Regions from separate parts of the Homo sapiens genome. Here region 2 is linked to region 1. The links come from fine-mapping of genetic effects on gene expression. A gene starts in region 1. The other region holds a variant in brackets. All regions are shown on one strand. Distances are from middle to middle. Region 1 holds the start of CD300LD (CD300 molecule like family member d). Region 2 overlaps CD300H (CD300H molecule (gene/pseudogene)).

Evidence for each region. PIP is the estimated chance that this variant, and not a neighbour inherited with it, causes the effect.
Region 2: its variant is the best candidate, but not a certain one, in a credible set for the expression of CD300LD in whole blood (TwinsUK, PIP 0.89).

Annotation. Positions count from the first base shown.
Region 1 is chr17:74,590,121-74,595,495 of GRCh38, forward strand. It overlaps CD300LD (CD300 molecule like family member d), which reads right to left and starts at 2,163. Exons shown (of 4, transcript NM_001115152.2): 1 at 2,043-2,163. The coding sequence starts at 2,082. It overlaps CD300LD-AS1 (CD300LD antisense RNA 1), which reads left to right. Exons shown (of 3, transcript NR_171003.1): 2 at 399-625; 3 at 1,864-4,089. RefSeq lists an enhancer at 2,067-2,196.
Region 2 is chr17:74,558,564-74,563,938 of GRCh38, forward strand. CD300H (CD300H molecule (gene/pseudogene)) reads right to left here. Exons shown (of 4, transcript NM_001405511.1): 2 at 5,356-5,375; 3 at 4,271-4,334; 4 at 1,608-2,261. The coding sequence ends at 2,138. Among named protein-coding and RNA genes, the nearest start is that of CD300H, 6.3 kb to the right of the region's middle. The variant A/G (reference allele first, on the strand shown) is at 3,152.

The DNA of each region.
Region 1 (5,375 bases):
GTTTCCCCCACATTGTTCTCGTGGTAGTGAATAAGTCTCATGAGAGCTGATGGTTTTATAATGGGAAACCTCTTTCACTTGGCTCTCATTCTCTCTCTTGCCTGCTGCCATATAATACATGCCTTTCACCTTCCACCATGATTGTGAGGCCTCCCCAGTCATGTGGAACTGTGAGTCCATTAAACCTCTTTTTCTGTGTAATTTACTCAGTCTCGGGTATGTCCTTATCAGCAGCGTGAAAATGGACTAATACACTGTGACTTCGTTTTCTATAAGTGGGAATAGTAATGGCATCTACCTCTATGTTACTATATTATGTTTGTTATTATTATTATTATTATTATTACCCCTGGATGAATGAAAACTTTAGACTTCATTGGAATGTCTTGAAAAACCAGGGTCACCATGGTGGGAGCGGAAGACAATTTCACCATAAACAGGCAGAGCTCCACAACCCAAGGAATTCCTGGAACAGAAATTGGACTCCATGCCCAAATCTGCTTTCTATGGCATCTGAAGGGAACTAAGAAACTACACACGACCTCCTGGGGAAAGATGGGTATAGGGGCTTCATTTGTTCACTCTGAAAAAAGTTCTACATCAGAATGGAAAGACAACAATTAAGGTAAATATTTAAAGAAAAACTACATCTGGAAGTTATTTATAAGAAATAAGAGCTGGGTGTGGTAGCTCACACTTGTAATATAACAACTTTGGGAGGCTGAGGCAGGAGAATCGCGTGAGCCCTGGAGCTTGAGAGCAGCCCTGGCAACATAGCGAGACTAAATAAATAAATAAATATTAGCTGGGTGTCGCACCACATGCCTGTAGTCCCAGCTACTCACTCAGGAGGCTGAGGTGGGAGGATGGCTTGAGCCTGGGAGGTCAAGGCTGCAGTGAACCCTGATCCCAGCACTGTACTCCAGATTGGGTGACAGAGCACACCCTGTCTCAGAAGGAAGGAAAGGAAGGAGAATATATCTGAAAATTGTTTACAGAATATAAATTTGAAGCCAGGCATGGTGGCTCACACCTATAATCCCAGCACTTTGGGAGGCCAAAGTGGGAGGATCACTTGAGCCCAGGAGTTTGAGACCAGCCTGGGCATGAAAGTGAGTCCTCATCTCTACAAAAAAAAAAAAAATAAAAATAATAATAATAATAATAATAATCTATTTTAAAAGAAAATAAATTTGAGATTGGAAGGAAAAATTTTCTTACAAAGCTTGATCTGAGTATAGATAATATGAGAAGCACATAGATTTGTTACATTTTAACAGAAATGAAAACACTACGTATCAAAATTTGTTGACATGACAGCCAAAGCTGTACTCAAATATAAATCCTTGGGAAAAAGGTTTGATGCTTCCTCAAAAAGTTAAACATAGAATTAACATAGGATTCAGCCATTTTACCCCTAGATATATACCCAAGAGAACTGAAAACATATCTCCATACAAAACTGTGCTATGAAAGTTCATAACATTATTACTAACAATTTTTAAAAGGTAGAAACAACCCTAAGGTTCATTGACAAATGACTGGAGAAACCAAATGTGGTATATCCACTGTGAAATACTATGCAGCCATGAAAAAGAATGAAGCTTTGATTTGTGCTACAACACAAAGTAACCTTGAAACATCATGCTAAGTGAAAGAAGCACTCCAGCCTGGGTGACAGAGCGAGACACCAGCTCAAAAAAAAAAAAAAAAAAAAGTTCTTCAAGAATGGACTCACTCATTAGTTCCTTCCTTCATTGATATCTGTTCATTCATCTGTTTATATGGAACAGTCAGGGTTGAGAACCACTGTTCCAACAAGAAGCTATACTTGTTTTGTTTTGTGTGTGTTTGTTTCTGCAGCATCTAACACAGAACCTGTCAGATAACAAAAACTTGATTGCTATTTAATGAATATGGGCATGGATGGATGAATTGGCGCTGTCATTTTCCCTGACATGTCTCCTTCCTGAGAACAGAGCGTCTCTGTCTCCAAGCCAGCCGCTGTCATTCCAGTGCCTTAAAGCTCCAGCCACACTCACCTGGGAGGATGAGAAGCAGCAGAGATGGGGACAGCCACATGGTCCTGTCTCCTCTCCTCTCCTTGGTGATCACAGGTGTCTGGTGCCCTTCAGGGACTTGAATCCAAGCTCGGAAGTCAACACCGCAAACCTACTCGAATCTCCTTCAAGTCTCTTGCTCACTTCCTGTTACATCTGTAGCTACTTCTCTTTTTACATATTAGGAGAAAAGAGGTGTCATTCTTTGAAAAGACTAAGGTACAGTGTATGTTGCAAGGTGTGCCCAAACTTTTGTGCATGTGGAAAAGAAAATGTGTCCGGGACTGGTCAGGTTTGCACGGGAGTGCACGTAGGAGCCAAGGAGCAGGAGGAGCCAGGAGGAACCCAAGCATTGAGGAGCTGCGGGATCTACTGCCTGGAGGAGAGGACGGACAAGGCCAGCCATGAGGAGTGCAGGGAGAGGAGCACTTTGGGAAGACCACAGTGCACAGGACTCACACCCAGCCTTGCTGGAGAAAGCCCATGCCCCAGGCTTCTTCCAGGCAGCCCCACTGTAAGACATCTCATTGCCTCTTCCTGCCCTGGGCTGTCTGACCCACTGCCCCTTCCCCCAGGAACACTTCCACTGGGATCATGAGTCACTCTGAAGCCACTCTGAAATCACTCTGAAGCCAAAGCTGGGCTCAGTGGGGAAGGTCAGGAATGGAGAAATTGCCTTTTCTCGTTAGCCTCCTCTTGCCCTGATTTCATCCTCCCTATCCCTGCACACTTTCCCCTGGCTGCTGTTGTAATCTACTTGTTCTGCTGACGCCCGAACTGACTTCTTTCCCGGTCTCTCCCCACTTTCTTTAGATGGTCCCTTCCCTCTTTCTCTCCCTTTCCCTCCTGAATCGATTCATTTTTTCTCTCCTGTTTTATATTTTCCATATCTGTGGGCTTTGTTCTACATTTGGGGAGCTTTTTATATTGTTTATTTCATGCTTGTACTTTCCCTTCCAATCCTTGGATCAAATATTGATTTTAGAGACTGTATTTTTATTTCGAAAAGTTTTTTTGGTTCTTTGATTACTGATGTTTTCAAACTCTCTTCTGTTCCTTGAACTATATCCCTCCACTCAGTGGTCACATCTTTGTTTTGTTGTCTGCTTCTTCTATATTATGAGCCTTCCTCAAGTGTCTGCTGATTCTTGGTTATCCAATCATAGTTGAGAACAAGATAAAGTGTAGCTAACTGAGACCTCAGAGTATGTAGGAGTAAATAGTATATAAAATAGCTCTGGTGGCTCATGCCTGTAATCCAGCACTTTGGGAGGCCAAGGCGGACAGACCACCTGAGGTCAGGAGTTCGAAACCAGCCTGGCCAACATGGAGAAACCCCATCTCTACTAAAAATACAAAAATTAGCCAGGTGGTGGCACACGCCTGTAATCCCAGCTACTCAGGAGGCTGAGGCAGGAGAATCGCCTGAACCTGGGAGGTGGAGATTGCAGTGAGCCCAGATTGCACCACTGCTCTCTAGCCTGGGCAAAAAAACTAGTTCCAAAAAAGACACTTGTACACGCATGTTTATAGCAGCACAATTTGCGATTGAAAACATAGGGAACCAGCCTAAATGCCCATCAAGCAATGAGTGGATAAAGACAATGCGGTGTACATATACACCATGGAATACTATTCAGCCACAAAAAGGAACAAAATAATGGCATTCACAGCAACCTGGATGGAGTTGGAGATCATTATTCTAAGTGAAATAACTCAGGAATGGAGAACCAAATATTGTACATCCTCACTTATAAGTGGGAGCTGCGCTATGAAGATACAAAGGCACAAGAATGATACAATGGATTTTGGGGACTTAGGGGAAAGGATGCAGGGGATGAGGGATAAAAAACCATACATTGGGTACAGTGTACACTGCTCCAGTGAAGGGTGCACCAAAATCTCAGAAGTCACTGCTAAAGACCTTATCCTTGTAACCAAAAGCCATCTGCTCCCCAAAAACTATTGAAATAAAATAAAATATAAAAAGAAAGAGAAAGAAAAGAAAATAGTTCCAATTTATCATGCCAAATTGTTTGAACCCTTGATTCTTTCTTGACTTACAAGCTACACTTTAAGGGGCGTGGGCAGAGAGCGGTCTTCTAAACTCTAGACTGAAGAGGATTGAAGTTGAGCTCCAGCATTCTCACTGCCATGGCTTCCCAGATATTACATTAAAATAAAGAATTCCTGCTCTTTTGCCTGGGGGTCAGTGCCTGCCTCCAGGCATTTGGGGTATATGTAAAGATGTACATGTTTGGCCGGGCACAGTGGCTCACATCTATAATCCCAGCACTTTGGGGGGTCGAGGCGCGTGGATCACCTGAGGTCAGGAGTTCAAGACCAGCCTGGCCAACATAGTGAAACCCCGTCTCTACCAAAAAATACAAAAATTAGCCCAGCATGGCAGCGCACGCCTGTAATTCCAGCTACTTGGGAGGCTGAGGCAGGAGAATCACTTGAACCTGGGAGGCGGATGTTGCAGTGAGCCGAGATCACACCATTGCACTTCAGCCGGGGTGACAGAGTGAGACTCCATCTCAAAAACAAAACAAAACAAAACAAAAACATGTTTGTGGAACTGCTCCATGAACAAAGCTCCAATTGGGTCCCCAGTCTCCATTCCCACTTCTGACCCACACTCTTCATCACACCTGCTGGCTCTGAGTTCAAAGCCTCCCCTGAGTTTTATCAGGTGGGTCAATTAGAAGTAGGAGTTGCAAAATGCAATTTATTTTATCTGCCCTTTACTCTGAGGGTACACCCAATATGCCCCAGACCACCATACCCCTAATCTTTTGACACGGCAGGCCCCTAAACCAGTGTAGGGTTTATCTCCCAGCCTCTGGAGCACATCCAGTTGCTAGCCTCTTCTTGTTATCAGGTGCAATTAGCATGATGTCATAAACACAGGGGACTACCTTTATGTTCTGGGCAATGGCTGGACGATTCAGGTTTCTTAGAACAATACTACAAGGAGAAGAAAATTAACACAGTCCTGGAACAAGACTGTGAAAGTATACTGTTGTCCATGCCAAGCGAATGCGCCTGCCTCTGTTCCTCCTTCCTGATGGTGGCGGAAAGGATGCTTTTGCCAGATCAACAGTCACACACAACACACCAGGTTATGCTCATCTATTCTAGTAAACCTGTCACTGTTGGCACAGAAGCTGGAAATTTGGCTATTCCTTTAATATGGTGGTGGGTTTGTTGTTGTTTTGTTTTGTTTTGTTTTGTTTTGTTTTGTTTTGTTTTGTTTTGTTTTGGAGACAGGGTCTCACTCTGTTGCCCAAGCTGGAGTGCAGTGGCACAATC
Region 2 (5,375 bases), 32 kb before region 1:
AAAAACTAAAAGGCAGAAATGAAATCCACAAGCAGACAGCCCAGCACCACACCCTGGGCCTGGTAAAGATAGACCCCTGACCTAATCGGTTATTTGCATAAAAAAGCACTGTGAAGATCCCTGTCCTGTTCTGTTCCGTTCTAATTAACAGTGTATGCGTCCCCTAGTCACGTACCCCCTGCTTGCTCAATCAGTCAGGACCCTCTCATGCAGACCCCCTTAGAGTTGTGAGCCCTTAACAGGACAGGAACTGCTCACTCAGGTAGCTCAGCTCTTGAGACAGGAGTCTTGCCGATGCTCCCAGCCGAATAAACCCCTTCCTTCTTTAACTCGGTGTCTGAGGAGTTTTGTCTGTGGCTCTTCCTGCTACATAGTCACTATTTTTTTATTTTAGCCACTCAGATAGGCAAATATATCCATCCAAATAACTCTCTCCCAGGGCTAATTCCTAGAGAAAGTAAACAACTGGCCTGCAAGTCTGCCTTTGATATGCAAACCAAACCATTCCCTATTCCATGCCCCCACCTGCTTCCTTTCAGCAGGCTCCTGCAGTCTGGGATATTTTCTTTCCCCTGCCCTAAATCACCCCAGGGCCAGGTACCAGACAACTAGAGACCACTCTTGTATCCTAGCCCATCAGAATAATTCAAACTACACACTCCGAAGCCTGCTGTTTGCTTACCTTACCTTGCCTATCACTTCCTCTGAAAACCATGATAAAGGCTCCCACATACATTTCCTCTCTCTCTCTCTCTGCCCCTTCACCCGCCCTCGTGCTTCCCCGTGTGGCCCTACATGGCACACTGCACCTCCTGCTTCTAGGGGTCTTTGAGTAGAAACTTATTTCTTTATGACAGTCATTTCCGTATCTGCATGCCTTACCATATCTGGTTAAAACAAATCCTGGTACATTTTTTTGTTTTGTTTTGAGACAGGGTCTCACTGTGTCACCCAGGCCACAGTGTAGTGGTATGATCATAGCTCACTGCAGCCTCCATCTCCCAGGCTCAAGCATTCCTCCTGCCTCAGCCTTCTGAGAAGCTGGGACTACAGGTGCGTGCCACCATGCCTGGCTAAATTTTTTTTTTAAGTAGGCATGAAGTCTTGCTATGTTGCCCAGGCTGAGTTCAAGCAATCATCCCGTCTCAGCCTCCCAAAGTGTTGGCATTAGAGATGGGAGCCACCATGCCCAGCCTCAGGTACATTTTTAAACATGTCCTCAATACATTAACCTGGTCCCTGAAAAACTCAGAGGGGTCCCATCATATAACAGTAAACCAACTTAAACTGAACCAGTTGATGGCCCAATCACAGTTTTGTTTTGTTTTTGTTTGTTTGTAGGGAGTTCCCTACAATCTACTGTCAGGAAAGGAAAAAAATCCAATATGGTTTATGAGCAGAAGAACTTGCAACAGTATGATTTCCTCTGTGCAGGATTCAAAAACAACCATGTCCTTGCTCAGCACACTAAAGCAAGGGAGTGATTACTCCAAGAAATATTCAGATAGTATTTAACCCTGACAGTAGGGGAAAGACAGTTATGAGGTCAGGGAGAGGCATATGGGGGGCTTCAAACATCTTAATAATGATTGATTTCCTAGGCTGAATGGTGGGTACACATGTTTATTTTTAGTCCTTGAACTGTATAGATACCTCATATACATACTCTTGTGTATGGGATGTATTTTATTTATTTATTTGTTTATCTGAGACAGGGTCTCCCTCTGTCACCCAGGCTGGAGTGCAGTGGCACAATCTCGACTCAATGCAACCTCCACCTCCGGGGCTCAAGCGATCCTCCTGTCTCAGCTTCCCAAGTAGCTGGGATCACAGGCATACACCACCACACCCTGCTAATTTTTGTATTTTTTTGTAGAGATGAGGTCTGACCATGCTGCCCAGGCTGCTCTCAAACTCCTGGACTCAAGTGATCCACCTGCCTTGGCCTCCCAAAGTGCTGGGATTGCAGGTGTAAGCCACCGCACCCGGCCTACATTTTTTTTTAACTTTTAAAAAGTATCCGGTGATAAGATGGAAAGAAATATGAGGGTCAGGGTCAGAAGTCCTTTTTGCAGTCAGAGGGGCTGTGTCTCTGGACAGGGTTCCAATGGGCATGGGGTGTTGCAAGTTCTCCTGTTCATGACTCTGTCCAAGGAGTCCTCCAAGGCCTGTTCACCCAGAGGATAGCACCGAGTATGCTCAGGAGCAGAGGCACCTTCAGGAGTGGGAGAAGCAGGAAGCAGGTGCTGCTGGGCAGGGACCTGTGAGACGGAGAGAGTGACTAGTAGTAAGCTGCCTTCTCCGGGGAGTCCCAGGCTCTGCCTCTCCCCCGCCTTCCCTCGAGGTCTCGTCCTGTGCCCTCAAACCCAATGTCAGCATCAAGCCTGGTGGGTACCAGGGTCAGGCAGCCCCATGCTGAGGGTCACAGGCTCCTGACCTTCATTCAGCTCAGAATTAACCTTGAGTGTCAAGACCCAACAGATGCCGGAGGTGAGGGATAGAGAAGAAGAGAGATATGTTAACCCAGGCAGGAACTGGCTCCCAGAAACAACTTCCTGAACAGATCCCTCAGCCACTGATGCCCGCAGGAACTCAGCTCTTGCTGGGAACAACCTCAAGGATGAAATACTCCTTTACAACCATCTTCACTCAAATTAAATATGATCACAAGAACAGCTCTTTTGCTTAAACGGCTTAACAATCTCAACCCCAAGGAGTGAACTCTCCAAGCTCAGCCCATGGCCAGTCGTCTCGCTCCGTGGGTCCCACTACACTGCTCCCATTCCAACTCCTCAGATGCTGCATTCTCTCCCCAAAATGGGCCGCTGTGCCATCTCTCCACCTTCCCAGCCCTCTACCTGCAGGGCTTGTCTGATGCCCTCCCTGATCCTCTCTAAGACGAGTCCCTGTAACAAACCCTGTTGGCGCCCTGCCCCATATCACCTTTGCCCACTTGAGCTCCTGGCAGCTGCAGGCAGTCTTGGCCCCACCAAGGATTTCCCAGCTCAAGCTCCCCATCTCTGCCTGAGGTTATCTACAAGAGTGCACACATTTTCCTGTGCAGAGCAGGCCAGATGGGCCACAGAATTCATGCCCCCAGGAGTGCCTGCTGCCTGGAAGACTCTGTCTCCAGTTCTGAGGAACGTTCTAC[A/G]CAGTCTCTCATAGGGTGCCCAGAGGGGTTAATCTCCAGTGACTCCAGTTACTACGGGGATAACCCCTTCATTACAGCACATTTCACCGCCCTTCCCCTTTCCTGGTCTCACTTTCTGCTCTCTCAATGTACTTCTTGAGATTACCTCTCAATAAACAAATTGCTCCTAAGTCCTTGTCTCAGGACCTGATTTGGGGGAAACCCAAACTAAGACAGTCCCTTTGTTCTTTGTTTCTGTGGAACATCTTGTATTTCCTTGATAGCCCAAATCATGCCCCACCAGCTTCCCACACACTCTGGCACCCTATCTCTTTACACCTGCTTTATTTTCCTCCACAGTAATTATCATTCGTTGACATATTTCCTTGATCTATCGTCTCTCTGTCTCTATTACATATCTCTCTCTGCCAGCTATCATCTCCATCTGTCTTTCCAGTCAGCCAGCCAGCCATCTCTATCATCTTTCATATCATATCTATCATCTGTCTGTTTATCTATCTATCCACCTATCTATCTATCTATCTATCTATCTATCTATCCATCTATCTGTCTGTCCACCTGTCTGTCTGTCTATCTATCTATCCATCTGGCCATTGCCTGAATCTACCTATTTGCAACTTCCTCAAGAGCACAATCTTGCCCCTTTGTTCACTGTTGCATCTCTAGAATCTCCATCAGTTTCTGGCGCATAACAAATAAACACCTGTTGGCCGAGCACGGTGGCTCACACCTGTAATCCCAGCACTTTGGGAGGCCGAGGCGGGCAGATCACGAGGTCAGGAGATCGAGACCATCCTGGCTAACATGGTGAAACCCCCGTCTCTACTAAAAATACAAAAAAAAAAATTAGCCGGGCCTAGTGGCGGGCGCCTGTAGTCCCAGCTACTCAGGAGGCTGAGGCAGGAGAATGGCGTGAACCCGGGAGGCGGAGTTTGCAGTGAGCCGAGATCGTGCCACTGCAGTCCAGCCTCGGCGATAGAGCTAGACTCTGTCTCAAAAAATAAATAAATAAATAAATGTTGAGTGGGTGAATAATCAAGGAAACCTGTGTCTAGGAAGCCCCACCCTAGGAAAGAAGCTGCACACATGGCAAAAGACACTGGGACACGTGCATTTTACCCTTGGCATTGGCTGGGCCTGGTGGGAGATGCAGGTGTCTTCACAGAGTTCTCAGTACTGGAGGCTGAGGATAAAGAACAGAGGTTCAGTGCCCTACGCCTGACTCTTCCCAGCTGAGTACCTGGTACCTGCATGGTTCTGACTTCATAAAGCAGAGGACGCTCAAGGAGGCAGCTGGACAGATGTTCTAGGACCATCGTCTTCCAATAGGCAGACCAAAGCCTGACTGGAGTAACAGAGCATCCCCCCAACCCCATCCCAATGGATGCCCTGCTCTGGGGCCGGGTGGGCATTTTATAAACCCAGACCAGAGGATGACCACCTTCTCCCATGTTGGTGTCCCCCATCTCGCTGAAAATCAACATGCCGAAGGTTAGGCTTAGGTTCCAAAACCCCCATCCTTGCCAGTGTATCCACACACCACCACTACCCTCCAGCACACACTCTCTGTCTCACACACACTCTCACACCTGCACACACACTCTCACATGTGCACTCACGCAACTTCACAAATACACTCACACGCCCACTCACTCACACACGCCTGCTCTCACACACACTCTCACATGCACACTCACACACCTGCTCTCACACACACACCTGCTCTCACACACACTCACACACACCTGCTCTCACACACACCCACACACCAGCTCTTGCACACACTCACACACTTGCTCTCACACACACTCACACACTCACACACCTGCTCTCACACACACTCCCACACTCACTCACACCTGCTCTCACACACTCACACTCACACACACTTGCTCCCTCACACACTCACACACACTCACACACACCTGCTCTCTCACACATTCACACACACCTGCTTTCACACACACCTTCACACCTGCACTCACTCTCACATGTTTGCACACAACTCACAGTCACACACTGAAACACACTTACACTGTCCCACTCATTCAAACACACATGTATTTCCCACACACATTCACACAACATACTCTGTCCTGAGTCTCTGATGCACCACACTAGGCCCAGTTCTTCTCTCCTGGGCCAAAATTTCTGTGGCTGCTCTGCAGAGATGGCCTCAGATGCCTGAGAAAAGAGGCTCTTACCCGATGAGACCAGCACTTGA